2 separate regions of the Homo sapiens genome follow, and region 2 is linked to region 1. The links come from fine-mapping of genetic effects on gene expression. A gene starts in region 1. The other region holds a variant in brackets. All regions are shown on one strand. Distances are between the middles of the regions.

What was found. PIP is the estimated chance that this variant, and not a neighbour inherited with it, causes the effect.
Region 2: its variant is fine-mapped to the expression of PLEKHM1 in whole blood (INTERVAL, PIP 0.99).

The regions. Positions count from the first base shown.
Region 1 is chr17:45,483,828-45,498,940 of GRCh38, reverse strand. PLEKHM1 (pleckstrin homology and RUN domain containing M1) reads left to right here and starts at 8,220. Exons shown (of 12, transcript NM_014798.3): 1 at 8,220-8,289. It overlaps LOC105369225 (a long non-coding RNA gene), which reads right to left and starts at 8,069. Exons shown (of 5, transcript XR_002958152.2): 1 at 1-8,069.
Region 2 is chr17:45,394,960-45,410,072 of GRCh38, reverse strand. It overlaps ARHGAP27 (Rho GTPase activating protein 27), which reads left to right. Exons shown (of 20, transcript NM_001282290.2): 5 at 3,990-4,397; 6 at 4,967-5,149; 7 at 5,392-5,472; 8 at 5,545-5,628; 9 at 5,739-5,804; 10 at 5,977-6,044; 11 at 6,364-6,454; 12 at 7,255-7,359; 13 at 12,026-12,124; 14 at 13,049-13,157; 15 at 13,283-13,405; 16 at 13,488-13,586; 17 at 13,789-13,866; 18 at 13,956-14,090; 2 more. The coding sequence ends at 14,617. Among named protein-coding and RNA genes, the nearest start is that of ARHGAP27, 30 kb to the left of the region's middle. RefSeq lists a silencer at 14,164-14,321 and an enhancer at 14,953-15,113. The variant C/T (reference allele first, on the strand shown) is at 7,706.

The sequences.
Region 1 (15,113 bases):
GGCAAAAAATTTAAAATAGTAAAAATCAGCCAAACATGGTGGCATTCATCTGTAGTCCCAGCAACTTAGGAGGCTGAGGTGGGAGGATTTCTTGAGCCCAGGAGGTCAAGGTTGCAGTGACCTATGACTGCACCACTGCACTCCAGCCTGGACAACAGAGTGAGGCCCTGTCTCAAAAAATAAATAAATAGGAGTTTGAGGCCATGTTCACACTCACTGCAGTCCAGTCTGGTAAACAGAGCAAGACGCTGAGTCTTTAAAAAAAAAAAAATTTTTTTTAAAGTCAGCTGCTAAGACACACTAGCCACATATCAAGTGCTCAACTGCCCCGTGTGGCTAATGGCTTCCAAACTGGCAGCACAGGCAACTGTTTTCATCACTGAAGTTCTGTTGGACAAGAATACCTCTGGAAGCACACACGAGAAACTGGTAATGGCGGTTGCCTTCGGGGAGGGAAACTGGGAGAGTGCAGGGCTGTATGCCCTTTTGTACCTCTTGAATTTCATATCATGCGTTTGTACTAGGTGTTTACAAATTATTTTAAAAACATACTGGGAATTAGGAATCCCCATATGGAATCACTGCAGTGGGACACTGATTCCCAAAAAATTACTTTGCAATTTGCCTAAAACAAATTAAGCTAATAGCTATCATGATTTCATATTTAATATTTTTTCACAGCTTAGAGTTTTTTTAGCTCCTGTTGCTATCTCTCTGCTCTTATGAGCTCACAGGGTGACAAAGTGAATTAGTAAGTAGCAGGAGAACATTAAAGGAAAAACTCCTGGGCAACAGGGCAAAACGCCGGCTCTACAGAAAATACAAAACATTAGCCAGGCATGGTGGCATGCACCTATGGTCTTAGCGACTTGGGAGGCTGAGGTGGGAGGATCGCTTGAGCCCGGAAGGCGGTAACTCAATCCCAGCAGAATCCCAGGGAGCGAAGGTGGCTCATCCCAAAAGAAAAACAAGAAGGAAATTCTATTACCAGAAGACAAAGGGATGAAATGAGGGATGGAGAATCAAAGACTGAAGCTACTAGGGTTTGTTTTTATTAATATTTAATTTTTTCAGAGGCAAGGGTCTCAGCATGTTGCCCAGGCTGGCCTTGAACTCCTGGCCTCAAGCAATCCTCCTGCCTGAGCCTTCCGAGTTGTTGGGATTACAGATATGAGCCACTGCATCCAACTTTGGTTCTTGTTTGTCTGTTTTGTTTTGTTTTGTTTTTTTGACAGAGTTTTGCTGTGCCACCCAGGCTGGAGTGCAGTGACTCAGCCTCGGCTCACTGCAGCCTTGACCTTCTGGCCTCAAGTGATCCTCCCACCTCAGCGCCAACCCCCACTGCCCTCCAATATCTGGGACTACAGGTGCGCGTGACCGCGCACAGCTAATTTTTAAATTTTTTGTAGAGATAGGGTTTCACTATGTGGCTCAGGCTGGTCTCCAACTCCTGGACTAAGCGATCTGCCTGCCTTGGCCACCTCCCAAAGTGTGAGCCACCGTGCCCACCCATTGAACATTGAAGCTAGACTGGGCAAACCCTTAAGCCTAAACCAGTAACAGTTTTTCACAAGTTCATAGATGTTACTGTGGTTAATAACACACAAATTCATTTAAAAGCATGTGTGTCCTCATAGTAATTTTTGGTCCTTATTTTTATTTTTATTTTTCAGTTAATGGATATTAAAGATACAACTTTATTTTGTTTTTTTTGAGACAGGGTCTCACTCTGTCGCCCAGGCTGGAGTGCAGTGGCATGATCAGAGCTCATTGCAACCTCCACCTCCTGGGTTCAAGAGATTCTCCTCCCTCAGCTTCCTGAGTAGCTGGGATTGCAGGTACATGCAACCACACCTGGCTAATTTTTGTACTTTTTGTAGAGATAGGGTTTTACCATGTTGCTCACGCTGGTTTTGAACTCCTGAGCTCAAGTGATCCACCTGCCTCGGCCTCCCAAACTGCTGGGATTACACACGTGAGCCACCACACCCGGCCTAAAGATATAATTTCTATCATGAGGAGATCCAAGAACTATTCTCTTTTTCTTTTTTTAATGTTAGAAAGGGATTCTTAACTGAGTATGTGCTGCAGCAAAGGGAGGGGAAATTAAGCAAGAAGAGAAGGGAGCCAGGAAATAAAGGCCCCAACCCAGGAAGCAGTTAAGCAAAGTTCCAGGATGACCACATGTGACAAGTTTAGGGGATAACTTGAGCACATGGAGGACAGAACTTGGAGAGGGCACTGTGGGCCTGGGCGCCACCTGCTCCACCAGAGCACTGGAAGAGAACGATGGCACGATAATGGCAGATGGCACTGAAAGAAAAGGAGAGAGCTTGAGGCACCCTTGGGGGAAGCAGCCATCATCAGAGTGTATTTTATTTTTATTTTATTATATTTTGAGATAGAGTCTCACTCTGTTGCCCAGGCTGGAGTGCAGTGGCATGATCTCGGCTCACTGCAACCTCCACCTCCCAGGTTCCAGTGATTCTCTGCCTCAGCCTCCCAAGTAGCTGAGACTACAGGGGGCACCACCACACCGGCTAATTTTTGTATTTTTAGTAGAGATGGGGTTTCTCCATGTTGGCCAGGTTGGTCTTGAACTCCCGACCTCAGGTGATCCGCCCACCTTGGCCTCCCGAAGTGCTGGGATTACAGGCGTGAGCCACCATGCCTGACCTCACAGCACATTATTAAGCTCTGTGGTGAATAATATTTATATAGTCACAATTCTGTAAACACTGTTCATTTTCTACAAATTGTGGCAAACCCAAACCTCAAGAATGGACAGGGCTGGGGTGTAAAAGAGCTAAGTCCTTGCCAGGTTTACCAGGAAGGCAACAGACAGTGTCTAAAACTATGAGACAGCTGGGCGCGGTGGCTCACGCCTGTAATCCCAGCACTTTGGGAGGCCAAGGCAGGTGGATCACGTGAGGTCAGGAGTTTGAGATCAGCCTTGACAACATGGTGAAACCCCGCGTCTACTAAAAATATCAAATTAGCTGGGCATGGTGGCAGGTGCCTGTAATCCCAGCTAGTAGGGAGGCTGAGGCAGGAGCATTGCTTGAACCCAGGAGGGGGAGGTTGCAGTGAGCCAAGATGGCACCACTGCACTCCAGCCTGGGTGACAGAGTGAGACTGTGTCTCAAAAAAATAATAAAATACAAACAATGAGACGTGCAGGAGATGTGGGGAGAAGCACCAGAAGATTCTGCTGAAAGCCTGCTCCCCAGAAGGGTGGGAACAATAGGGACAATGAACTGCTGTTGTTCGTTATGTTTCATCCCCATTCCGTTTCATTTTATTGAATTGTAAACCGTGTGTATAACAACACTTTTTAATCAATTTTTTAAAAAAGAGAGAGTGGAAAGAAACCGCTTCCTACAACAGAACTGAAGAGCACACCAGTGATTACAGTGTCCAGAGAGGAGGGTGCATTAACACTAGTTTTATTATTTCAATCAGATGCCAAGCAAGAATATATCTGGGGTTCAGACAAGAAAGGCTCTCATTCAAGTGCTTACAAGAGCAATGGAAGGCAAGGACCTGCCCAATTGGCAGGGTGAAAATTAGCCACAACTAGAATAGTAACAACTGTTCATCTTTGAGCACTTACTACAGGCCAGAACTTGCATTAAGGATATCATCTTTTTCTTTTCTTTTTTTCTTTTCCTTTTTTTTTTTTTTTTTTTGTTGTTGTTGTTTTGGAACAGAGTCTCACTCTGTCATGTAGGCTGCAGTGCAGTGGCGCAATCTCAGCTCACTGCAACCTCAGCCTCCCAGGTTCAAGCGATTCTTGTGCCTCAGCCTCACAAGTACCTGGGACTACAGGCATGAACCACCATGCCTGGCTAATTTTTGTATCTTTGGTAGAGATGGGGTTTCACCATGTTGGCCAGGCTGGTTTCGAACTCCTGGCCTCAAGTAATCCACCCACCTCAGCCTCCCAAAGTTATGGGATTACAGGCGTGAGCCACTGTGCCCAGCCAGGATATCATGATATTTACTCCTCACATCAACTGACATTAGCCCCTATTTACAATGAGGAACTGAGGCTCAGAGAGGTTTTGGCACTTGCCTGAGGTCACACACTCTGGGCTCTCTGCTTGGGGCTGAGGGCGAAGGGGCGTTGTGACTTACTTCTCTTTCCTGAACATCAATAAAATTCAATTTAGAAATTTCTGTCTTCAGTGCGATCTCAACGGGCCTGTGAAAAATGCTGACTCGGTGGCAGCTGTCAGCTATCTTAGCCCCATACTCATTGGGTTGCCCTGGGCCCCACACTGTTTTAAGGAAGTCCCAGCAAACAATATGGGATAGAGATGAGATTCAAACCTAAACAGCCCTGGCTCTAAAATCCACTGAACAAAGCTGAAACTAGAATCAGAAAGAACTAGGTAAGAATCCTACTTCTAGCACTTACTACTTCTGTGGCTGTGGCCCCCCCGCAAGTTACTTAACCTCTTTTTTTTTTTTTTTTAAGAGATGAAGTCTCGCTCTGTCACCAGGCTGGAGTGCAGTGGCGTGATCTCGGTTCACTGCAACCTCTGCCTCCTGGGTTCAAGCGATTCTCCTGCTTCAGCCTCCCAAGTAGCTGGGACTACAGATGCGTGCTACCACGCCCAGCTAATTCTTTGTATTTTAGTAGAGACAGGGTTTCACCATGTTGGCCAGGATGGTCTGGATCTCTTGATCTCATGATCCACCCACCTCGGCCTCCCAAAGTGCTGGGATTACAGGCATGAGCCACCGCACCTGGCCACTTAACCTCTTTTAAGCCTATTTTCTCATCCATACAATAGAGATAATGGCAGCACCCACCTTTCAGGTGGCTGGTAAGGAATATTAGGTGAACACAGGTGCCTATGTATGTTCTTCCATTTTCCATAAATGTTAATTCCCTTATCCCTCATCTCCTAGGTTAGTCCCGGAGGACAGACTTGAACTTTGAAAACAGAAAGTAACTGCCAAAAGGGATTATTTAGGGCACAGATTTCCCCCTTTCATTATCCTTTAGGTCCTCAGTGGTGAGGGCAGGGGACAGGAGAGGTGGGGTGAAGCCCAAATTCTTGGACCTCATCCTAGAGTGACTCTTTAGGGTTAGTGTGGGGCTTAGGAATCTGCATTTTGGACCTGTCCCCAGGGCATTCTGATGCCTACAGTTCTCCTGTGTGGCTTTGAATAACGCTGGGTAGTGCTTTAAATCCAAGCTGACAGACCAGTGGGATGTGAACCATCCTTGCAAATGGTTTGAGCCCTTTCTGCACTGGCCTCCAACTTTGCCTTGCTCAGTCTTCAGCTCCCCTTCCATTCTGGCCCTCTCCCCTTACCCTTTCCTTTTTCACTTCCTTTTATTTTTATTTATTTTTATTATTATTTAAAAAAAATTTTTTTTGAGACAGGATCTCACTCTGTCGCCCAGGCTGTAGTGCAGTGGCATTATCTTGGCTCACTGCAATCTCCGCCTCCCGGGTTCAAGCAATTCTCATACCTCAGCCTCCTTAGTAGCTGGGACTACAGACACACACCACCACACCTGGCTAATTTTTGTATTTTTAGTAGAGATGGGCTTTCACCATGTTGGCCAGGCAGGTCTCGAACTCCTGACCTCAAGTGATCCACCAGCTTCGGCCACCCAAAGTGCTGGGATTACAGGCATGACCCACCGTGCCCAGCCTCCTTTTTCACTTCCCACCTTCCTCCCCACCTCTGGGTGCACCCTTCCCTGAGCTCAGCCTGTATTCCTATGTGCTGGCCACTTACCAGCCAGTCCCTTCAGCTGCAATACCCTTTACTCACCTAGAAAGCTCATATCAAAAGTCGCCTCCTCCAGAATACCTCTCAAGTTCTCCTCTCTGGTCCCTTGGCCCTTTGCAGGTACCTTTTTTCTTGCGCAAGTCACGTGATAATGTAAGGGTTTTTTTTTTTTTTTTCCCCCCCATCTGGAGCCTGCCTGGTGGGCTCAGGGTCCATTTGTGCAAACATGCATTTCCCTCTCCTCTGCGCCCCCTCCTTCATGATCCATGCTTTATGCAGCTTCCCCAAGGCATGCAGAGCAAGCTGAGAAGAGGTAGGCAAGCCTGAAGACTTTTCAAAGAAGCAGGGTAGCTTGGGAAGTAAGAGAAGACCAGGAGATAGGGGCTCCTAAAAAGCAGACAAGAGATTACCGAGGGGTTCCCCACAGCTCCAGCACACAGCCGCTGCACAAAAATGCAGTGGAATTACTGAGGGACATTATGTGCTTGATGGGGGACAGGGAATGCTTGTGCCAAGCCACCAAGGATTATGCTGTGCCAGTTGTATACTATCGTTTTGCCAAGGTGAAAGGATTTCCCTACTAAATCCCTTACTTTCCACTTTGTTTAAAATGAGTTTAACACCGAGAGAATAGTTTGTCTCTATGTCCTTATTTCTAATCTTCCTGCTCAACCATTAACTGCAGTAAACACACTCAGACCCATCTAGTCTAAAATTGAGAAGGGGAGGTTCTCACTCCTGGAGAGAGAATTACTGAAAGGGCGGCCCTCATACAGTCCAGGGTCATACCCCCAAGTGCTGGTTTTATACTTGAAAGCAGACAGTGGGACTCTGAACTTTGCAGAGATAAGAGGGACACCTTCCTACCCAGAGAAGCCAAAAGAGCACAGGACGCCCAGGCCGAGGGCAGTGAAGCTTGCTTCCAAGAACTGGCCCGTTCCCCAGCCAACCCCTGTGCCCACTTAGGACTGGCATGTAGCAGTACCTCTCCTCATCCACACTCAGGCCCTAGGCTCCCAATTGACCAAAGCCTGCAAGTATAAAGTGTCCAGAGCATGGGTCCCTGCCAACACTCCCTGCCCTGCTCTTCACTACCTGTGGCCACCACTTATGACATTTTGTTCCGAGTTCATCTGAAAGAGAAATGTCACTTTTGCGTTAGAAAGAAGATATACAGGCCAGGTGTGGTGGTTCATGCCTGTAATCCCAGCACTTTGGGAGGCCGAGTCAGGAGGATCGCCTGAGGCCAGGAGTTGGAGACCAGGTTAGGTAACACAGTGAGACCCCTGTCTCTACAAAATAAACAAATTTTTTTAAAAATGAAAAGATTGGCCGGGCGCGGTGGCTCACGCCTGTGATCCCAGCACTTTGGGAGGCCGAGGCGGGTGGATCACCAGGTCAGGAGATCGAGACCATCCTGGCTAACACGGTGAAACCCCATCTCTACTAAAAACATAAAAAAATTAGCCGGGCGTGGTGGCGGGCTCCTGTAGTCCCAGCTACTCGGGAGGCTGAGGCAGGAGAATGGCGTCAATCCAGGAGGCGGAGCTTGCAGTGAGCCGAGATCGCGCCATTGCACTCCAGCCTGGGCGACAGAGCCAGACTCCGTCGCAAAAAAAAAAAAAAAAAGAAAAAAGAAAAAATTAGCTGGGCGTGGTGGTGCACGCCTGTAGTCCCAGCTGCTTGGAGGCTGAGGTGGGAGAACCACTTAGTCCGTGAGGTCAAAGCTGTGGTGAGCCGTGATCGTGCCACAGCACTCCAGTCTGGGCGACAGAGTGAGACCCTGTCTCAAAAAAAAAGCAGAAAGGAAGAAAGAAATCCTCTACACGGGCTAGAAGAGAATAACCAGACCCCTAAGCTTCAAGCCAGGCGGTGCTAATGGGCGAGTTACACACGGGAGAGTGCCCAAGGGGACCTCAAGGCGTTCCCTTGGGATAAAGTGTGGTCAAAACAGCTATGTTTATCCTGAAAGCGCAAGGCGGAGGCTCCAATTTGGGCCCGGGCTCCGCCCCACGGGCTGCACTGCTGCCCTCGGAGAGGCAAAGATAGGGCAGGCGTTATTAGTCCCACTCACAAGTGGGAACTCTTCAGCTGAGGGAGGCGAAGTGACAGCCCCAATGTTGCACAGATGGTTCTGAGGCCAAACGAGGTCAGGAACCCAGAAGCCAGGATCTAGTTTGACGCAGACCTGCGGGAGGCGGGCGGTAACGGATGCGTTCTCCCTGACACCGGTGCCTTCGCCTCTCTGCGCCCTGCAGGCGCCCCCAGTTCCCCAGCCTCCCAGACCTCGCATCTGCCCCGGGGCTCAGCTCCCAGGGACTTCCGGGAGCAGCTGGCCCCGCCCCAAGGCTCCTTCGGGCTGCGCGATTGGCACCGCGGGCCGGGGCAGGGCCGGAGCGCCGAGCCAACGTGATGGCGTCAGGGGCCGGGGCGCCGCTTCCTGTTGTCAGTGGCCGAGAGACCGCATCGTCGGCTCGGAGGCTGAGGGGCTGCCGCGGCCGGGAGCGCCCCTCGCCTCGCTCCTCGCTCCGCTTGGTGAGTTAGGGGGTCAAGATGCGAGGAGGGCGGCGGAGTGGTGGGAGGGCCGAGGCGCGAACGGGCGGTGGGCCTCCCGCTCCCTCCGCGATTCCCAGCCCCTGGTTACCCTGAGACTGCCCGGCTTCAGGGCCCTCAGCCCTGTCCAGCCCGCGCCCGCTCCTCTCCGACCCAGCCTTCCCCCTGCACCGCCGCTGTGGCCCCGTCCCCTCCGTCTGTCCAGCCCCCAGCCCGCGCCCGCATCCCCTCACCAGCGGTCTTGCTTAAATGCAGCTTCACTCGTGACCCCACTTTACCCCAGTTCCAACACCGATCTCGGCCACGTCCCTTCGCCCCGCCCTGACACACCTCATCCTCTCTCCCCACCCCTCTGGTAATCCCGATGCTCCGCGCTTACCTCCCCGAGACCCACCATTCAGGTTTCCCCTTTTCTGGCTCAGCTTTCTTATCCCAGTCACCCCCATCCCCCGTCTAGCTCCCCAAGATCTGCTCATCCCAAACATTCTACCTCCGCCCTCTCATCTAAGACCCACCCCCAAAGTAGGTGCCCTGTTGAGCTCACCGCTTTCTTCTGGATAACTCCGATCTCAGCCTTATTCCAAGTCTTAACTGTGTCTTCTCGTCCTTAGTCTCCTAGCCACTGTATACCTTCCTTTGCGTCTCCTGCCGTACTGAGGACAGCCCATCCCTAAGTCTTTGCCAAACTGTCCCGAACTCTTGCTGCCTCCTTTCCTACCACCCTCACCCAATCTTGTTAAAAATGACATCTCCATGTCCTTTCACCCCCGCTGACCCACCGCAACTCTTCACCCCAACTCTGCGTCCATTGCTTCCCTCGACCCAACTCCCATTCAACCTGAGAACTTAGTGCAGAGTCGCCTGCCAACTCCACCAGCTGCCCCTCAACAGCCAAATGTAGGTGCTCACTCAGACCCGCAGTTACAGACTGAGCAGCATGATTGGCGGGTGCAGGGGCTCAGGTGGTAAATAAGGGTGGAGGAGCAGTGGGCTCTCCCCAACTCTTGGGTGGGGCCGGGGTTTTTCCTGGCATCTGGTCTCCTGCACCTGTCCTCAGGGATTGTGTTTTTGGCATTCATATTAAATGACTTGTGCTGGCTGCTGGAATGGTAGGTATCATTCAAATATCTGGAAGGTGAGAGACGGCCACTCACTCAGCTCACTTAGCACAGAATGATGGAAGCTGTCACTTCCTTCTGGTTGGTGTTCTCGCCCTGGAGAGCTTCTGGGAAGTTCTGTGTGGTGTTGGCTGTGGTCACAGAATATTGTTCGTGTTCCTTTTCTTGGCACTTGTAAGGGCCTCTCCCTGCCAGAGCTGATGGCAGATCAGTCCTGATGCTGAATTCAGGGGATATGATGGGTGCCAGAGGCAACGTTACCTGTTGTGAAGAGTATAGGTGAGTAGGTCCTGGGGAGGCTGAGGCCTAGGTGGGTACAGAGGCTCTTGAATCGCTTTCTTTTCTTTTAAGTGCTGGATCATTGACTTTTGGCCATCTGGGTTCCATGAACACAGGGAACCATGTTATCTCAGAGTAGCTGAGGCAGAAGGACATTCCAGAGGCACCCAAGTCCCATGCTCAGCATTTATAGTTTCCTGGGGGCTTTTTGGTACACATTTTCTCTGAATCCTGAGGACCCGGCATCAGATGGGTGGGCCATTTGATTGCAGCTTTTTTCTTTCTTTCTTTCTTTTTTTCGACGGAGTTTACTCTTGTTCCCCAGCCTGGAGTGCAGTGGCATGATCTCGGCTCACCGCAACCTCTGCCTCCCAGGTTCAAGCGATTCTCCTGCCTCAGCCTCCCGAGTAGCTGGGATTACAGGCATACACCACCATGCCCGGCTAGTTTTGTATTTTTAGTAGAGATGGGGGTTTCTCTGTGTTGATCAGGCTGGTCTCCAACTCCCGACCTCAGGTGATCCACCCACCTCGGCCTCCCAAAGTGCTGGGATTACGGGCGTGAGCCGCCGCACCTGGCTGATTGCAGTTTTAAAGAGCCCCAAAGAACACTGTCTCTGCTTGCCACTTATAGTCGTATTCCTTTGAAAAGTGAATGCTGTTTACCTTCAATGTCCTCCCATTAATATGCAGTATATTTAAGTTGTTTTCAGCCTTATTGGCAGCTTGGCTTAATGACAGGAGCTCCACAGTTGCCCCAGCACTTAAGAGTTGTATACCCCAACTTCCCACAGTGTGTGAAGTGGAGGTACTTACCCCGTGCCTTGTTTTTATTTTATTAATCAATTCATTCAACAGCTTATTTTTTGAGCACCAGTGTGTGACAAACACTGTTCCAGGTACTAGAAATACAATGGTGAATGGGTCAGGCAACGGTCCTGTTTTCATTCATTCAGAGTTTGGTCCTTGTTAGAATCCTCTGGGATATGGGACAAGAATACAGGAAAGCTGGGTGATACTGGATGGAAGGAAGGAGGGAGGAAAGAAAGATAGCTAGTGTTCACTGACTCCACAATTCTGCCCTCATCCACTAGCCCTGAGTCTGGGAATCACAAGCTAAAAGTTTCTCACCCTTCATCTGGTATTTAATTGCTTCAAAGCTCCAACCCCCACCACTCCACCCATCACAGAAATCCAGCTTTCCTCAGGTGGACAGAGGTGCAGTTTCCTCAGTCAGCACTCACATGCCTGAAAGATCAGCTGCCTTTCTGAATCAGAGGATAACTTTGTCATTCTTTTCCAATTGAAAAAACATGACTCATCAATTGGTACAGCAGTTGGATGGCTTAAAGCCAGGCTGTGGCTCTGAACAGCCAGTTACACAATTCAGGCAGTGGAGAGAAGGCCGTGGGGAGTGGCTGAGGAGTCCCTCAAGAGAAGAGGTTGCTGTTCACTGATGGTGGAGTGTTTTGAGAGTGGTGGAACCAGGTTATCCCTTTCTTCTTTTAACGTAAGTCTCATCCAAGTCATTCTCTTTTTTTGCTTCCTTGATCTCTGGAGGAAGTGAAATTGGACATATAGAGAAGGCCAGGCAGTATAATGCAGGAAACCAACCGGAACTGTTCCTTCCTAACTATGTTGGAACATTTAAGAAAGTATAGCTCTGAGACTTTAGGAGCATTGGTAGGACCTGGTCTCAGCTGGTTGGGGCTATAAACCTGATTGGCAGAACTGTTTCTTGTTGGTTTCAGACCTTCTGTGATGAAATGGAGCTTCCGAGTACCTCTAAAGAAGAAGTAATAGTTTGTCTGAATTTGAGCCAAAGACCTGAGGCCTTTTGGTCCAGGGAAAGATGCAGGAGTTGGGATGAAGAAACCAGAGAGTTCTGTCCCTTACCCGAGACCCATTGCTACTGAGCCTCAGTTTTGTCCTCTGTAAAACAGGGATAATCACTCTCTCACGGGATTGCTGTGAGAATTAAATGAGGTTAGAGAGGGACATCAGAGAAGCTTGCTTTCTGCACTCTGGAGAGCTATGTGAAGGCGAATGAATACACAGGGTGGCAGTAGACTTGGTGTGGTTTGGGGCTTCCTAAATGGCACCAGTCACCTTTCCCCTGCTAAGATTTCACCCGTCATGTTCAAGAGCCCTTTGGTACTGTTGCCCAGCTTTGCCTCACTCCCTTCAGGTAGGTCTCCTTGAAGCCACACCTCTCTTCACTTTGGTTCTTTGTGTCAATGAAGAGCGTTTTGAGGACAGAAAGTGGAACCAGTTCCATAGGATGGTAGATTCAGAATCTGGGCCACCAGGGTGGGTGACGCAGTACTGTCCCCACAGTCAAGAGACACAAAGCCTCCTTCTGATTCCCGCCGTGAGTTCTTATGTCACTGACCATCTGAGCCCTGCCTCCCTGAGCATGATGGAACAGATACAGATAGGTGGGGTGCTATGGCTGCCTACAAACAGAGGTGTCCTGCATTGTGGCTGGAACCCCAGAGGCTCAGTCCTGTCTTGTGAATTTTCAAGTGGCTCTTCTGCTGGATTTCTCTGAGCTCTTGTCAGTCATTTTGTGGCATTTCTGACTCTGTTTTAGGCCAAGTGACCCTTCTCTTGTCTGGCCCTGTCTCTCTTAGCTTCAGTTTATTATTATTAATTTTTTTTTTTGAGATGGAGTCTCGCTCTGTTGCCCAAGCTGGGGTGCAGTGGCACAATCTTGGCTCACTGCAAGCTCCACCTCCTGGGTCCACGCCATTCTCCTGCCTCAGCCTCCCAAGTAGCTGGGACTACAGGTGCCCGCCCGGCTAATTTTTTGTATTTTTAGTAGAGATGGGGTTTCACCGTGTTAGCCAGGATGGTCTCGATCTCCTGACCTCGTGATCCACCCGCCTCGGCCTCCCAAAGTGCTGGGATTACAGGCGTGAGCCACCGCGCCCAGCCAGCTTCAGTTTATTATTTATTTATTTATTTGAGACATAAATTATTATTATTATTATTATTTTTTTATTTTATCTTTTTTTTTTTGAGACGGAGTCTCTCTCTGTCGCCTAGGCTGGAGTGCAGTGGCGGGATCTCGGCTCACTGCAAGCTCCGCCTCCCAGGTTCACGCCATTCTCCTGCCTCAGCCTCCCGAGTAGCTGGGACTACAGGCGCTCACCACTGCACCCGGCTAATTTTTTTGTATTTTTAGTAGAGACGGGGTTTCACCGTGTTAGCCAGGATGGTCTCGATCTCCTGACCTCGTGATCCGCCGGCCTCGGCCTCCCAAAGTGCTGGGATTACAGGCGTGAGCCACGGCGCCATGCCATAAATTATTTATTTATTTATTTATTCTTGCTTTGCTGCCCCGGCTGGAGTGCAGTGGCATGATCTCGACTCACTGCAACCTCCGCCTCCTGGGTTCAAGTGGTTCTCCTGCCTCAGCCGGTATGGTAGCTGGTAATACCAGTAGCTGGTATTACAGGCATGGGCCACCATGCCTGGCTAATTTTTGTTTTTTTTTTTAATTAGAGATAGGGTTTCACCATGTTGGCCAGGCTGGTCTCAAACTCCTGACCTCAAGTGATCCTCCTGCCTCGGCCTCCCAAAGTGCTGGGATTACAGGTGTGGGCCACGGCACCTGGCCTATTTTGTCTTCTTAGCATACTGTTACTTGGCCAGAGCACTCACTTACCAATGGCCTGCTCCTCCCAGTGAATACTCTGTGAATACTCTATCACTCTCAGCTAATTAGTTAATGAGGTCTTAATGGGCCTGGGCTATAATTCAAATTATTGGGTCTAAGTCCTTAGGGTCCCGGCCCTGTAGCTGGTTAAGGGAAGGGCAACTTTGGGGCTTCGGGCTCTCTCTAGAAGGGTGGGCCTGAGGGCCTCAGGCCACTGGAAATTGTGGACTGGGATTGGAGCCCAGGGTTTCGGAGCCAGAGAAGCTGGACGTGGCCTGCTGAGCTGCAAAAGGGTAGCCTTGATGGAGCCTGACCTCAAGACCAGGCCTGTTTCTGGAAGTGACCCTAGATGCAGAGTCACTGCAGCATACAACCCCCTTTTCCTGTCACCCCGTGGCCAGAATGTGGAACTGGTCTCCAGAGGAGGGCTCTGAGAATCCCTGGGTAGCTGGGAGCAGACTATGGTGAAGGGTGAGGCAGTCAGATGGGGCTGTAGTCAGGACTGAGGGCTCTTCTGGCCATCTGCAGCACCCGGCCTGTTACTGGGTCTGCAGGAACCATCCTCCATACATGCCTGCTTCCTCCTGAGGGACCTGACTTAGGGAGGTTGGCTCTGGGTCCTGACTCCCTGTGTCCTGTTTGCCCTCTGCTATCCCCAGAAGCCAGAGATCCAATCAGAGCACCTTCCACCATTTAGGGCCAGCCTGCCTGTCTGCTTTCCAAACCTCATGCTGCTCCAGGGCTGTCCAGGAAACCTTTCCTGCCACACTGGCCTTAATGTTCCCCTGCACCCCCTGTTCCCGGCCCCCAGCGAAAGGGTCTTCCCAGACCACCCCTGGAATCCTAGCTCTGAGGTGATGGCACTGTTGATGAAAAAGCCAAACTCTGTTAAATATTCGAAGAGGTTTATTCTGAGCCAAATGTGAGGGCCATGACCTGTGACATAGTCCTGGGAGGTCCTGAGAACATGTGCCCAAGGTGATTGGGGTACAGCTTGATTTTTATCCAAGTTACAGGCAGAAGTTACAGGCAAAGACATAAATTGATATATGTAAGGTATACATTGGTGGGGACAGGGTAAGGTGGATTAAAAGATTTTCCTGATTGGCAATTGGCTGAAAAAGTTAAACTTTGCCTAAAGAGTTAAAAGTCAGCAGAAGAAAAGCTTGGGGTTAAGATAAGGTGGGTTGTGAAAGCCAAGGTTCATGTAACGTAGATGAAGCCTTCAAGAGAATAGATGGTAAATGTCTCTAAGGTGTCAGACTCTTAGTTAAATCTCCTCTAAATCAGGAAAAGGCCTAGAAAGGGAAGGGAATCTCTGCAGGACATAAATTTTCCCAACAAGAGATGGCTTTGCAGGGCCATTCCAAACTATGTCAAAAATATACTTGGGGGTAAGATACTTTGATTTCCTTAGGGCCTGTTATCTCCCATGTGATGTTAGACCAGTCAGGTTGGAGTTGGTATCTTAATTGCTGAGAGTCTGTTCTGTCAGTCTTAGGAGTCTGTTTTAATGTTAATGCTGGTCAGTTGTGTCTAAGCTCCAAAAGGGAGAGGCTAGGATGAGGCATGGCCCACGCCCCACTTCGTGTCATGGCCTGAACTCAGTTTTCAGTTTTTTTGAAATCCCTTTGGCCAAGGGGGGCCCATTCAGGCAGTTGGGGAGCTTAGAATTTTATTTTTGGTTTACAGCACTCACTCAGGAATCGGGTTTTCCTAGGGCTGGGGTTGGCTTCCTCCTGGGGGCTG
Region 2 (15,113 bases), 89 kb after region 1:
GTCAGCTTGGGGCAAGAGTGGCAGGGCTGCCACCTGCTTGTGGACAGGGGAGGGAACTGGAGATAAGGGGTGAACCACTGTAAGGCAGTACCAGGGGGCTGGGCAGCCTGGAGCCTGAGAGCCAGGTCCCTCTTGGCTCCTCCTCTGGCCTGAGGTCGGAAGGCCACTTCTTGTCTCTAGGATGCGACCCAAGAGCCATTGATCCCGTAGTCAGGCCCCTGCTTATGAGCTGCATCTGGGTCTTGTCTGGGCCTCCATGAACAGGAGCAAGGAGGAGGGTAGGGGTGGCAGGCGCCTGTAACTCCTTGAAGGCCAGAGGATGTGGAGGGCGTGACTGCACCTGGCCCCAGGAGCTGGTTAGAACCCAGCTGAGGCTCTGCCAGGAGAGGAGAGCATCTCTATCTCAGCACTGTGCAGGGTCTGCCGAGAGTTCCAGAGTTTGAAGGGGCCTGAAGGACACTGCAGTTCAACACCCACCACAGGGCTATGGCTTCCCTAACAGGGAGTAGACTCTGCTCAGTCACCTCCAGTGAGGGCCCCTCACTACCTCCAGAAGCAGCCTGTGTCTCTGGCAGCCCTAGTCCTCAGAATGCTTCCTTCAGAGGAATGCTGCTGTGCCCCTGCAGCATGATACCCCATCTTCTCTTCCTTGTGACAGCCCTGTCATGCTGGGGACCTAAACTTCTACCTCCGAAATCTCCTCTGTACCTGCTGGGGACATTCCTTCGTGTGAGGACCCCATCAGCCTCACTGGCCTGGGACTCCTCGTGGACCCAGAGCCATGGCCCACAGCCTGCCAAGTAGAAATTCCTGCTCCAAAGAGCCTGTTCCTTATCAGCTCATCCACCCCTGGTGGAGCCTTTCAACTCCTGCCCCAGTGCGTTCAGCTGGGAGGATGGGAGGTGTGTCTGGTTCCTCTGCCTTCCTCTCCCCGCTGCTTCCATCCTGCCCTCCCCAGGAATCTCCTGGTTTCTGTGGCTCCGACCCTCCTCCTCAGAAAGCTCAAGCTCATTCCAGGCTCTTCTGTCATGTCAGGCATGTTTGTTGCTGAAACTGGGCATGGGTTAGACTTGTGTACACAAGCAGTTTGTGGCAGACCTGCTATGTGCTTCAGGGCATTGGCCCAGCTGCTGGGGGGCAAATGGAATCAGCTACATTATCCTTAGTCTTGCTCTCAAGAAAATCCTGCCTTTTGGGGCAGAGGAGGTGGGCAGATGGTTGGACAACTGGCTGCCCACCAAGGCAGAACGCCATTGGGCCTCAACAGAGCAGTGAGCAGAGTGCCAGCAGGTTTGACCTCTCCCTGGAGAGGCTTGTCAGCTGAGCACCGTGAGAGAGCAGGATTTGGGTAGGCAGAGAACCAGAGAAGGGAATTCCAGGCTGAGGGAATGGCTGGAGCAAACGCTTCGAGGTGGGAGGATGCCTTTTCTGTTGGGGGCCGGTGAGAGGCCTGTTGTGGTTGGACTACAGGATGCCACATCAGAGCTATGGTGGGGGTAGAGAAAGGACAAGTGGGGTGGAGGGTCCCCTCTCAGCCACACAGCAGCCTGGAGGAAGGGGAGAGGAGAGAAGAACTGATGGGCTGGGATCCCCAGCTCTCCCTGTCCCCCAGGCGCCTGGGGACTGGCACCCTGTCTAAAACTGTAACATCCTCTTCATTGACAGTGTTTTCATTTCTTGCTTAGCAGTGATCAGCACTGACATGCTGTCCATTTACTCATCACCCCCACCATTTACACACAGGTGCACTTGAGTGCCAGCTCTGCCAGGGAAGGATTTGTGTCCCTTTCTTCCCTGCTGTATTCCCCGTGCCTCAAACAGTGCCTGGCACAGAGCAGGTGAATCTTTGTTGGGTAAACAAATGTTCTTCTTTTCCTTCTTCTTTTCATTGTTTTGGTTTGGTTTGCTTTTTTGGCATCAGTTTGGTGAAAAATGAATTTTTTTTTTTTTTTGGCATCTGCCTAAGGCTCAGGGAGAGACCACCCTGAACAGGTGCTTCCTCTTTCGAGGAGTTTACAGCTTAGTGATGGTGTCACAGTCAGCAGAGGAACTTCTGTGAATTTTTAAAAGTTTTGTAGTACAAAATTTTGAGGCTGCAGGAAAGTTCAAAGAAAACAAAACAAAAACAAACCCCTATAATCACAGTGCTCAGAAGGGACCTCTGTTAGCATTTTGGAAAGTTTCCGAAAACACAAAATTGAAATGTGGAAATCTGCTTTCCCCTGAAGTATTGTGTATGCTTAGAAAATAGTAGTAATTGGCCAGGTGCGGTGGCTCACACCTGTAATCCCAGCACTTTGGGAGGCCCTGGTGGGCGGATCACCTGAGGTCAGGAGTTCAAGACCAGCCTGGCCAACAGGGCAAAACCCCATCTCTACTAAAATACAAAAATTAGCCAGGCGTGGTGGTGCGTGCCTGCAATGCCAGCTACTTGGGAGGCTGAGGCATGAGAATCGCTTGAACCCAGGAGGCGGAGGTTGCAGTGAGCCGAGATCACACCATTCCACTCCAGTCTGGACGACAGAGCGAGACTCCATCTCAAAAAAAAAAAAAGAAAAAAAAGAAAAAGAAAAAGAAAAGAAAAGAAAATAGTAGTAATCTCCGTATGCCATGCTGCTGCCTGGGGTTTGAGAATGTAGTCATCTGTCCCTCTGTGGGGCCAAGGGTGCTGGGCTGAATGTGGGGGCACGGGGATGGGGGGAATCTCAGGAAAAGGCTGGAACCTGGCACCTCAGCTGAATCCTGAAGAAGGAATTGGAGTCAGCCAGGCAAAAAAAGGGGTGGAGATGGGCCTGGGCAGGCTGCAGATGAGCCTAGGCCTGGAGGAAACACAGCAGGGACGGTGGGGACCTCTAGCAACTGGTGCTACTGGAGCTTAAAGTTCAAGGCAAGGGGCAAGGAGTGGCAGGAAATAATAGTGGAAGCACAGGCCGGTGAGGGACGGTCTCTTGTGCCTGGTTAAGGGCTTAGACTTTGCCCTGCAGCCAGCAGGGAGCTCTGAGGTGTGAATCAGGAGAGCCTCTGTTCCGGGAGGCTTACGCATGGCTAGGTTTATGTTCTATGTGATTGAACCCCCAGCTGCCCTCACTCTCCTTTGGGGTGGAGTAAAACAATTCACCTCTCTTTGCCCCTCCATTCTCCAGCCCATCTGGCTGTCCTGTCTCCCTCTCTTGTCTGGAATTGGTTCTGACACCTGCAAACTTCACCTTGGAAAGTTCAGTCCCCAAATCCAGACAGGGTGCTGATTCCAATCCCAGAGCTTTCTGGGCTGAGAGTGGGGTGGGGTGGGAGCTCTCAGTGGAGCTGTAAGAATGCAGCTTGAATCCAGGAGGTGGTGGTTGCAGTGAGCCAAGATTGCGCCACTGCACTCCAGCCTGGGTGACAGAGCTAGACCCCATCTCAAAAAAAAGAATGCAGCAGGGCCCTGAATGGGCACCATAAACAGGGGCACGCCCCAGACCACTTCTCAGTTCCTGCCCAACCTCTGACTTGCCTCTGTGAGTGCACAGTTGTGAGAACTGGGTTATCGATGTTTTATTATTATTGATAAATATAATTAATGTAATTGACCCACCCGTCTGGGGCACTAAATACTTTACAAAGTACTTTCAAGAGCATTTCCTCATTCACTCTTCACTACAGTTTCCGGAATGGACAGAGCAGACATTTTACACCCAGGAAACTGAGGCAGAGAGGTAGTGTGACTTCCTGAAGGTCGCCCAAGGGGCTAAAGCTCAAGAAGAGGCCACTTCTAACAGGCACTTCCCCTTTCAAGGAGTTTACGGCTTAGTGATGGTGTCACAGTGAGCAGAAGAACTTACGTGATTTTTAAAATGCTTTGTTGTACAAAATTTTGAGGCTGCAGAAAAGTTTAAAGAAAATAAAGCGAAAACAAATAAACCCCTATAATCGCACTGCCCAGAGGGGACCTCTGTTACCATTTTGGAAGGTTTCTGAAAACACAAAATTCCTCCTTTCTCCTCCCGCAGGTGGACGACCCACCGGAGCCCGTGTACGCGAACATAGAGAGGCAGCCCCGGGCCACTTCACCGGGCGCCGCTGCAGCCCCCCTTCCCAGCCCGGTGTGGGAGACGCACACGGACGCGGGCACCGGGCGCCCCTACTACTACAACCCAGACACGGGAGTTACCACCTGGGAGTCGCCCTTTGAGGCTGCCGAGGGTGCCGCCAGCCCAGCCACCTCCCCTGCCTCGGTGGACAGCCACGTGAGCCTTGAGACCGAGTGGGGCCAGTACTGGGATGAGGAGAGCCGCAGGGTGTTCTTCTACAACCCGCTGACGGGCGAGACGGCCTGGGAGGACGAGGCCGAGAACGAGCCCGAGGAGGAGTTGGAGATGCAGCCGGGCCTGAGCCCTGGCAGCCCAGGGGACCCGCGGGTGAGGGGCAGGGCCAGAGTGGGCGGTTCTACCTCTGAGCGCCTCTGATCCCGCCTCCTGCTCCCAGAGGCCCAGGGACACACGGGTGAGGGGGTGGTGATGGGTGGGCGGGGCTACCTCTGAGAGCCTTTGACCCCTTCTCCTGCTCCCACAGACCCAGGGACCCCAGGGTGAAGGGCGGGGCTGGAGTGGGCGGGGCTACCTCTGAGCGCCTTTGACCCCACCTCCTGCTCCCACAGACCTAAGGACCAGAGGGTGAGGGGTGGGGCAGGATGGGTGGGGCTACCTCTAAGCGCTTCTGACCCCGCCTCCTGTTTCTGCAGACCCAGGGACCAGAAGGTGAGGGGCAGGGCTGGAGTGGGCGGGGCTACCTCTGACGCCTTCTGCTCCCACAGCCCCAGGGACCAGAGGGTGAGGTGCGGAGCTACCTCTGAGCGCTTCTGACCCCGCCTCCTGCTCCCACAGCCTCAGGGACCAGAAGGCAAGGGGGTGGGCCTGGTCCAAAACGGCAGGGCCAGCAGGCAGTACTGGCACTCAGAGCCTCTGACTCCACCTTCTGTTCCCCGCAGCCCCCCACTCCCGAGACGGACTACCCCGAGTCGCTGACCAGTTACCCCGAGGAGGACTATTCTCCCGTGGGCTCTTTCGGTGAGCCCGGCCCTACCTCTCCCTTGACCACACCCCCCGGCTGGTCTTGTCATGTCAGCCAGGACAAGCAGATGCTCTACACCAACCACTTCACTCAGGAGCAGGTAGGGGCAGGGGGCAGATGGACCCGGACAGCCTCAGAGTCCTCCCCACAACCTTCCTCACTAATAGGTCGCCTCAGTGCTCTAAACCGCAGCTCCCACACAGAGCCTAAACCAGCCAAACACAGTCACCTGCACCTGCCCCTCCAGACTCCCTGGTGCTGTCTTGGAACCTGGTTAGAGGGAAACTTTTCCTCCCCTCTCATAAGCTGGGCTGGAGGCCCTGACCATTCCTCTCCCCACAGTGGGTGAGGCTGGAGGACCCCCACGGGAAGCCATACTTCTACAATCCAGAGGACTCCTCTGTTCGATGGGAGCTGCCCCAGGTAACAACCTGGGGAAAGGGGGGTGTTGGGGAGAGAGGAAGAGATCATATACGACTGTGTCTTTCTCCCCAGGTCCCTGTCCCTGCCCCTCGAAGCATCCATAAATCCAGCCAGGATGGTGACACCCCAGCCCAGGCCAGCCCTCCAGAGGAGAAGGTAGGGGAGGAGCCATTGAGGTCCTGGCAGGACCACCACAGAAGCAGTGGGGGGCTTCTGGAGTTCCTGGGAGGAGGGACTTGGTGGGATCTATCTGTCTTCCCCCATAGGTCCCAGCAGAGCTGGATGAGGTTGGGAGCTGGGAGGAAGTCTCTCCTGCCACAGCTGCTGTGAGGGTAGGCATCACCCCCTACCCCCAGCCAGGTGGTGGTGCTGGCGAGGAGGGTTCAGTGGAGACACGGGCCCAGACCATAGAGAGTGGCAGCTGAGCAGGTGACCAGCCTCTACTCCCCATAGCTCACCCCTTAACTACACACTCTTGCGCCTGCTCTCTCTTCTCTCTCTTAGACCAAGACCTTGGACAAGGCAGGGGTGCTCCATCGCACCAAGACGGCAGACAAGGGAAAGCGGCTCCGGTGAGAGCCCATCTACACTCAGGCCGGGGCAGGGTGGGCCTTGGTGACGATGTTCACTGAGCACTTCCTGTATGCCAGGCTCTTATTAATCCTCACAACAACTTCGTGAGTGGTCCTCTGTGGACCCTGAGACACTGTGAGATAAAGTGACTTGCTCAAGGTCCCTCGGCTGCTAGGTGTTAGAGTCGGGATTCCAGCCCTCATAATGGGGTGCCCTAGCCTGTGTTCCTAAGCTCTGACTTGTTCCTGGGGTAGGAGGGGCCCTCAGCCCAGGACCAAATCTAAGTCCTGCCACCCCCACTTCCCCACCCCCACCTAGGAAGAAGCACTGGAGTGCCTCCTGGACTGTGCTGGAGGGTGGCGTCCTGACATTCTTCAAGGACTCAAAGACCTCGGCTGCAGGCGGCCTGGTAAGGCCAGGCCCTCAGGGCAGGGACCATCCCATCTGCTTTTTTTTATTTTTATTTTTATTTTTTTTGAGACGGAGTCTCGCTCTGTCACCCAGGCTGGAGTGTAGTGGTGTAATCTCGGCTCACTGCAACCTCTCCCTCCTGAGTGCTCCTGCCTCAGCCTCTCGAGTAGCTAGGACTACAGGCATGTGCCACCATGTGCGGCTAATTTTTGTGTTTTTAGTAGAGATAGGGTTTTACTATGTTGGCCAGACTGGTCTTGGACTCTTGACCTCAGGTGATCCGCCCACCTCGACCTCCTCAAGTGCTGAGATTACAGGCGTGAGCCACTGTGCCCAGCCCCCATCTGCTCTATCTAATCTGGCTTGGAGATGACCAGGTCTGAGAGAGTGGTCCATGAGTGTCAGAGGAGCTGGGCCTTGGCAGGAAGGGGGTGATACTGGCAGATTCACTCCAAGACAAGTAGTTTTAGCCCACTGGAGATGGGGAACAGTCTTGAGGGTGGCCAGCTCCAGCCTGGAGGGCAGGGAGGCTGGGGGTGGGCACACCTGCTTGCAGGGATGCAGACTGCACTCCTTTCCTGTCCTCCCCTGGGTGGGTGGGCAGCAGTGGACATGCCAGCCAGCAGGCTCCATGGTTAAGAAGCATCAGGGTCTCTGGGTTCAGGAACACTTGGGGCACTTTTCCCCAGAGTTGTTTCCTGGCCATGCCAGTGACCCCATCCTATTCCTAGGGTCAGAGTGCCACAGCAGACACATCTGAACTGAGGGCTCCCTGTGACCTTCCTCCCTCTCCCACAGAGGCAGCCTTCCAAGTTTTCCACCCCTGAGTACACAGTGGAGCTGAGGGGGGCCACTCTCTCCTGGGCCCCCAAAGACAAATCCAGTAGGAAGAATGTGCTGGAGGTGAGTGGCGGGGTTGGGGAGAAGGAGGGAAGGGGCTTAGTGATGCCTGCCAGCTCTCTGACAACTATTGACCTGGAAATGACCTGGGGGTTTTTGACCCTTAATTCCCTATGAGCCAACACTGAGTGCAGCTTTTGGCTGTATTAATAGAGGTAGGAACCCAGAGCCAGAGAGGTGATATTGGTGCAGTTGTTGGCAGTGCTGTGGGACCCTTACTGTAGGCAAGCCCCAAGAAGGAGGACCTGGGAAGAATTGGGGCTACCATTCTCAGGGCTCAAGGCCAACGCTGCACCCCCGCCCCAGGGGACCTGTCCTTTGTTTCTAACATCACATATTCTGCAGTTCC[C/T]TCTCCAGGAGCTGAGTTAATAATAATCCTTGCCCTGGAGGGTGGTGAGGAGTAGGGCCTCTGGGAGAGGAAATTCTCATGACTAGAATGGCAGCCCTCGTCCCAGCCTGAGAGAGACAGGAGGCTCCCTGTCCCTGGCTGCTTACTGTGACAGGCCTGGTTGGGAAACCTCTTTCTCCCCAGGTCCCTTTCCCTGCCCCTGAGCCAGAGCCCCATTTCCGACTGGACCGCATCCCCAGTGAATAAACTGGGGCAGTGGAGAAGACTACCATGCTACCCCCGCAGGAAGGGAGAGAAGACCCAGAAAGGGTACTCCCAATGCCACACCCTTCACTGTCCATGTGTTGTCTTGTTTTTAAACTACTCTTACCCTGACCTCAGTACCTAGAAGGTTTGAGGCAGATCACAACAGAAACACACGTGGTGAACTGTCAAATTAACTGAAAAGCCAGGACCATGAAAAACAAGTAAGAGATGGGACTCAAGATGGAGAGGAATTAGGGGGCAGATGATGTATGGGTGCTAAGGTGGTGGTTACTGAAGAAAATTTAGCTCCGACTTTCCTGCTAGGTGAGGTGAAAAGAGAAGGGCTATCAGGTGCATGTCTCTTTGTTGTTGAACAAATAATAAAACCCACCCAGATGTTGAGGGAATCAAAGCTTTTTCCTAACCCTTCACTCTTAAATTTCTTGTATGTAGCTCCATGAACATGGGATCTAGAAGCACATGCCAGGTACCCTGCAAAACAGCTCCAGGAAGGTTTAATTCAGGATCCGGGACTGCTTCAGGTAGCATCATTATGATGAAGGCCAAGAGCATGACCTCATGTCTAAGCTCAGAAAAAACAGTTCTGCAAGGAACCTGAGAGTGTAGTTTCCTGATTATTCACCAAGCTCCATTCAGTTCTAGAGCCAGGATATCTATAAAGCAAAGTTGGAAAACTGGTTTCATCTCATGAGCTACTCTGATGAGTAGGTCTGGAGTCTTGTGGGGTTTTGTTTTTGTTTTTATTTTTTGTTTCTGTTTTTAGAGACAAGGTCTTGCTCTGTTGCCCAGGCTGAAGTGCAGTGGCACGGTCAGAGCTCACTGAAACCACAAGCCCCTGGGCTCAAGCGATCTTCCCACCTAAGGCTTCCGAGTAGCTAGGACTACAGGCGCGTTCCATCACATCTGGCTAATTTTAGTTTTTATAGAGATGGGGGCTCACTATGTTGCCCAGGCAGGTCTCAAACTCATGGCCTCAAGTGATCCTCCAGCCTTGGCCTCCCAAAGGGTTGAGATTACAGGTGTGAGCCACTGTGCCTAGCCTGGAGCCTTCTTGAGAAGAATTCTGAAGGCTTCTCTGGGCTTGGCAGGATAGAGTTCTGTGATCAACTAACAATATCTGCTATGGTGTTAAATTGAGGAGAGACATCACTATTATGATTATGATTATGATTATGATTATGATTATTATCCAGAGTCTCACTCTGTTGCCCAGGCTGAAGTGCAGTGGTGCAATCTTGGCTCACTGCAACCTCTGCCTCTCGGATTCAAGTGAGTCTCCTGCCTCAGCGTCCCGAGTAGCTGGGACTACAGGCGCCTGCCACCATACCCGGCTAATTTTTTTGTATTTAGTAAAGACAGGGTTTTACCATGTTGGCCAGGATGGTCTCAATCTACTGGCCTCAGGTGATTTACCTGCCTTGGCCTCCCAAAGTGCTGGGATTACAGGTGTGAGCCACCATGCCCGGTCTGAGACATCACCTGTGCTAGTCATGTTTCTCCCCTGACTTTGAGGGATAGGTATATCCTTCAAACAGTTCTCAATGAAGATCATCACTGATGGACTTTTGATGAAAGTTTCAGAATAGGGCTTTTTGAGTTGTCTTTGCTGGCAAGGACTGGAAGGCAGGTGCTGCTCAGGCCAGTGGGAAGGTGGGCAGGCCTGAATGGAAATCACAAGCCCCTGCCTCCTGGTTGACTGCTGGCCATCCTCCCTCCATGCAGGGCGGCCTGTAGGCAGCTCCAGGGTTTTCCTCAAGAGACAGCCCCAAATTTTATATCATTGAGGATGGATGGCTTTGTTGGGCCCAGGAAATTTTCACAGCAGGTCTTTCTAGTCACCCCGAGTTACAGAAAACTTCAGCAACAGTCCGCCAAAAGCTGCTAGCATTTGCCTGTGCGGTCAGCAGGATAAATGTTTTGTTTATTTGTTTGTTCTTAGAGATAGGGTCTTACTGTGTTGCCCAGGCTGGAGTGCAGTGGCTTGATCGTAGCTCACTGCAGCTTCCAACTCCTGGACTGAAGTGATGCTGTCACTTCAGCCTCCCCAGTAGCTGGAAGTACAGGTGCACACTAGCATGTCTGGCTAATTTGTAAAAATTTTTCTAGATATAGGGTCTCACTATATTGCCCAGGATTGAACTCCTGGTCTCAAGGACTCCTCCCACCTTGCCCTTCCAAAGCACTAGGATTATGGGCATGAGCCGTTGTGCCTGGCTGGGGGTGAATATTTTGTGAAATACATTGCTATGTAATGATACAGCTTTGCCCTCTATATGAAACTTGCAAATATGAACTGATTATGTTTTGAGAGAGCTGCCAAAAATCATGGCTGTTGTTTTAGAAGTGTTGTCAAGCCATTCTCTGGGATAATCTTGAGCAGGGCTCTTGTCTGCTTTGATTAGAGTGAGGCTGTGTTATCTGCCTCTTGAAGGTTCTCTGTCCTTTGCAGGGGAGGGCTAGGGGATGAGATATGCCATTTTCTTTTCTTTTCTTTTCTTTTCTTTTCTTTGAGACAGAGTGTTGCTCTGTTGCCCTGGCTGGAGTGCAGTGGTGCGATCTCGGCTCACTGCAATCTCTGCCTCCCGGGTTCAAGCGATTCTCCTGCCTCAGCCTCCCGAGTAGCTGGGACTACAGGTGCGTGCCACCAGGCCCAGCTAATTTTTTGCATTTTTAGTAGTGGCAGGGTTTCACTGTGTTAGCCAGAATGGTCTCCATCTCCTGACCTCATGATCCACCCGCCTCAGCCTCCCAAAGTGCTGGGATTACAGGCATGAGCCACTGCGCCCAGCCTCATTTCATTTTAAAAAGCAGTTTAAATAGTCTTCAAGTATAAGTTTAAAAGGACAGCAAAGATAGTCCAATCCAATTCTAGAAGTTGTGTCCTGGGGTCTGAGACAGTTTCTGTTGTCTCTGACTCTCGCTGAACCAAAAGGGCAGGGTTGGTGTGAGCTGTTGCCGCCAAACATTCACATTAACCTGGAACACTGGGTCCTCAGAGCCAGAGGCTGATAAGGAATCCAACTAAGCTGCCATCCAACTCAGAAAGGGCTTTGAGCGTCAGTCCTATGGTGGCAAGTTTCCCTCTGGTGTTCTGTTTAATTTATGCTTCATGATGAAGCGGGCTAACAGAAGATGTGTTGCCCAGGCTGGAGTGTGGGAGGTGGTGGGGACTCCTGGCTGCAGAAGGTGGGACAACGTTTCTGAGTCCTCAGTGTGTGTATGGGGAGGGGCAAGGGGAGACCTTTCTTTCCCTGGGATCAGCCATGATCAGCTTTCAAATCCTCTCTCCCTATATTCACTGTTGCTTCTAGTAGACAGGGGTCTCAACATAGGAAGTTTCTGGGTTTTGTTTTGTTTTTTTTTTTTTGAGACGGAGTCTTGCTCTGTCGCCCAGGGTGAAGTGCAGTGGCATGATCTCGGCTCACGGTAACCTCCGCTTCCCGGGTTCAAGCAGTTCTTCTGCCTCAGCTTCCCAAGTAGCTGGGATTACAGGAGCCCGCCACCATGCCTGGCTAATTTTTGTATTTTTAGTAGAGACGGGGTTTCACCATGTTGGCCAGGCTGGTCTCAAACTCCTGACCTCATGATCTGCCCGCCTCGGCCTCCCAAAGTGCTGGGATTACAGGTATGAGCCATCGTGCCTGGCCTCACATAGGAAGTTTCTTTCACTTAGTTTGCAGGCCAGTGCTCTGCATGAGGCCTGCCATGTTCTGTGGCTTGCAGGGAGGCAGGATGGGGGAGGGAAAGTGTACCAGACAATTGAGCCATGCAGCTCTGTGCTCATCACTCACTAGCTGTGTGCCCATGAGGAAGCAGCTAAAACTTGCTGAGCCTCAGTTTGCTCATCTGTAACACAGAGATGCTGTCAGCCACTGCTTTACGTGAGGCAGAGATCCAAGACTTAGCCTGGGGTGAGGCCCTTGCTCCATTAAGCTCTGAGTGCCTGGGGGCAGGGACAGGTCACCTCTATCTCTGTACCTACCCCCAACTAGGGCCAACCCCCAGGGCAGACCCAGGGTACCAGAGATGACCCACTGACTTGTGTCCCTCCAGCTACGGAGCCGAGATGGCTCTGAGTACCTGATCCAGCACGACTCGGAGGCCATCATCAGCACCTGGCATAAGGCCATTGCTCAGGGCATCCAGGAGCTGGTAAGCAGAGCCCAGGGCCTCTAGGGGCAGTGGGGAGGGGGTGGCCATTATGAGTGGGGCCCTCTGCTCAGGCTCAGGGAGCTCTAAGGTACCAGTGGGTAATGCAAATGCAGTCCCCACTAATGGCTAGGATGGCAGGGTAGGCGGCTGAAGAAACTGCCTTCTGTAAGTCTGTGAATCCAGCCCTGGGGTTGGCCCTGCAGGAAGACTCTCCAGGTGAGGGTAGGGCACATTCTAAAGGAAGTTCCCATTTCACGGGAGGCAGAAGGCCAAATAAATACTCTGCAAGCCAACCAATGGCAGGCTGAAACTAGCAGATAAAATTTTAAAGGATTGATTTCAATAGTCGACCATTTTTTTAAGGCTGAAAACACCAATTGCATAAGTAGAGCTAGGACAGGGGCCCTCTGACAACTACTGACCTGGAAATGACCTGGGGCTTTTTGACCCTTAATTCCCTATGAGCCAACATTGAGTGAAGCTTTTGGCTGTATTAATAGAGGTAGGAATCCAGAGCCAGAGAGGTGATATTGGTGCAGTTGTTGGCAGTGCTCCGGCCACAGCTGGAGGTGCAGGCTCAGAACTGGGAGCCACGTATTGAGGAATGCTGACCCAGTTAGAGGAGCTGAGGAAAATAGAGAAAGAAGGCACCAGGTGGGTAGGAGTCCCCAGGATAGGAAGGGGTGTGGGAGAACAGGATGACTGTCTCTGCACCTTAAGGGCTCCATGCAGCTAAGGGAGGTGAATGTTCTCAGGCTCACTGGTGGAGGTAAGGAGAGTTAACCTGGTTAAGGGAAGAGAGGACTCTTCGCTGAGGGTCTCCAGGCCATGCCTGTTGGGAGTGCATTTCGGGTCCCTTGCCCCATCCTGGAAGGACCCGCAGCTGGCTCAAGGCCCCGCCTCTCTGAGGCTATGGGAATCCAGTCCGCAGAGCTGCCCCCAGAGGAGAGCGAGAGCAGCAGAGTGGACTTCGGGTCGAGCGAGCGCTTGGGAAGCTGGCAGGAGAAAGAGGAGGACGCGCGACCGAATGCAGGTGTGCGCAAGGCAGGATGGGGTGGGGGCTCCAGGAGGCCTCTCCTGGGGAGTGACGGTTGCTGGGGCCTGCCTGGCCTGCCCTGGCGCTGCCTCCTGACTCAGTCCTGCCTTTCCCCGCGGCAGCCGCGCCCGCCCTGGGCCCCGTGGGCCTGGAGAGCGACTTGAGCAAGGTCCGGCACAAGCTCCGCAAGTTCCTCCAGAGGCGGCCCACACTGCAGTCGCTGCGGGAGAAGGGCTACATCAAAGGTACCCGAGGCCTGCGGGGGGCGGGGACCCGGGACCGGGACGGGGCGCAGGCTGGGCAGGAGCTGATGAGCCTCTGCCCTAGACCAGGTGTTCGGCTGCGCGCTGGCCGCGCTGTGTGAGCGCGAGAGGAGCCGGGTGCCACGCTTCGTGCAGCAGTGCATCCGCGCCGTCGAGGCCCGCGGTACGTGCGCTGCGGGGGTGAGGGCGGCAGGCATTGGGGTGCCCGCAGGCCTCCTGCCAGGACCGCAGGCTGGAGACCCCTGGATGGACGCAGGGTCCAGGGGGAAAGTACGGGAGGCCCCGAGTGGGAGTCATAGCAGGGACCCGTAGCCCCACCCTATCCCCATCCCTGAACCCGGGATCAGCGCCTCCCTCTGGCCCAGGGCTGGACATCGACGGGCTGTACCGCATCAGTGGAAACCTGGCCACCATCCAGAAGCTACGCTATAAGGTGGACCACGGTGAGGCCCGTCCCCAACCCCTGCCCCAGGGCCTGAAGGCGCAAGGGGTACTGATTTCCCTTCCGTCCTCCTCCCTTCCTCCGCCACAGATGAGCGCCTTGACCTGGATGACGGGCGCTGGGAGGACGTCCACGTTATCACCGGAGCCCTGAAGCTCTTCTTTCGGGAGCTGCCCGAGCCCCTCTTCCCCTTCTCGCACTTCCGCCAGTTCATTGCGGCCATCAGTGAGCACCTGGGGCAGGTGGGGCGGATGGGGTAGGGGCGTGGCGGGGCACCCCTTTAGCAGGCTCCCCTCGCCCAGCCGATACCCCCTACCTCCCGTTCCGACTCCCTCCCTCTAAACCTTCCCTCACCCAGAGTTGCAGGACCAGGCCCGGCGCAGCCGCTGTGTGCGTGACTTGGTGCGCTCGCTGCCCGCTCCCAACCACGACACTCTGCGGATGCTCTTCCAGCACCTCTGCCGGTGAGCCGGGCGGCCCGCGCGGGAAGGGGGAGGCAGGTCCCGGCTGAAGCCCCCAGCGCCTCCCCGCAGTTCGCAGTTCGGAGCCCTGAACCCACCCACCCCTGCCACAGGGTGATCGAGCACGGCGAGCAGAACCGCATGTCGGTGCAGAGCGTGGCCATTGTGTTCGGGCCCACGCTGCTGCGGCCCGAGGTGGAAGAGACCAGCATGCCCATGACCATGGTGTTCCAGAACCAGGTGGTGGAGCTCATCCTGCAGCAGTGCGCGGACATCTTCCCGCCGCACTGACTGCTGGCCTGTGACTGGGGCGGCGGCCGCGGTCCTGCCACACAAGCTGGGCGGCGGAGGCCACGCAGCCGGGCCTTCTTCTCTCTGGGACCCTCCGCCAGCGCATAGCCGCAGGCCGGTGTGACTTCTGCACCCTCGGTTCTGAGGGTACGGTGACCCCTAGTGGGCAGTTTGCAAAATGTGATTCCTTCTTCCCAACTCCCCATCCCCCCTTCCCTTCCCGTCACGTCCTGTTTGGGGGTTAATTCGGTTTTTTCTCTGTTGCATCGCGCCTACTGTGCGTGTGCGATAGCGTGTGTGGGGGTGAGAGTTTGTTTTCTGGAATGGTAGGTGCTGGGAGGAGGAGTTTGATGGAGGGCTTCCTGGCTGCTTCTGGCCCTCACCTCGTGGAGGCCTTCACAGAGACCCTGTGGGCCCTGGCCCTGTGCTGGCACTGTGCCAGTCATGAGGCAGCTCTGATCACTTCCCCACTGTGGAAACAGGACTGACCCAGCCT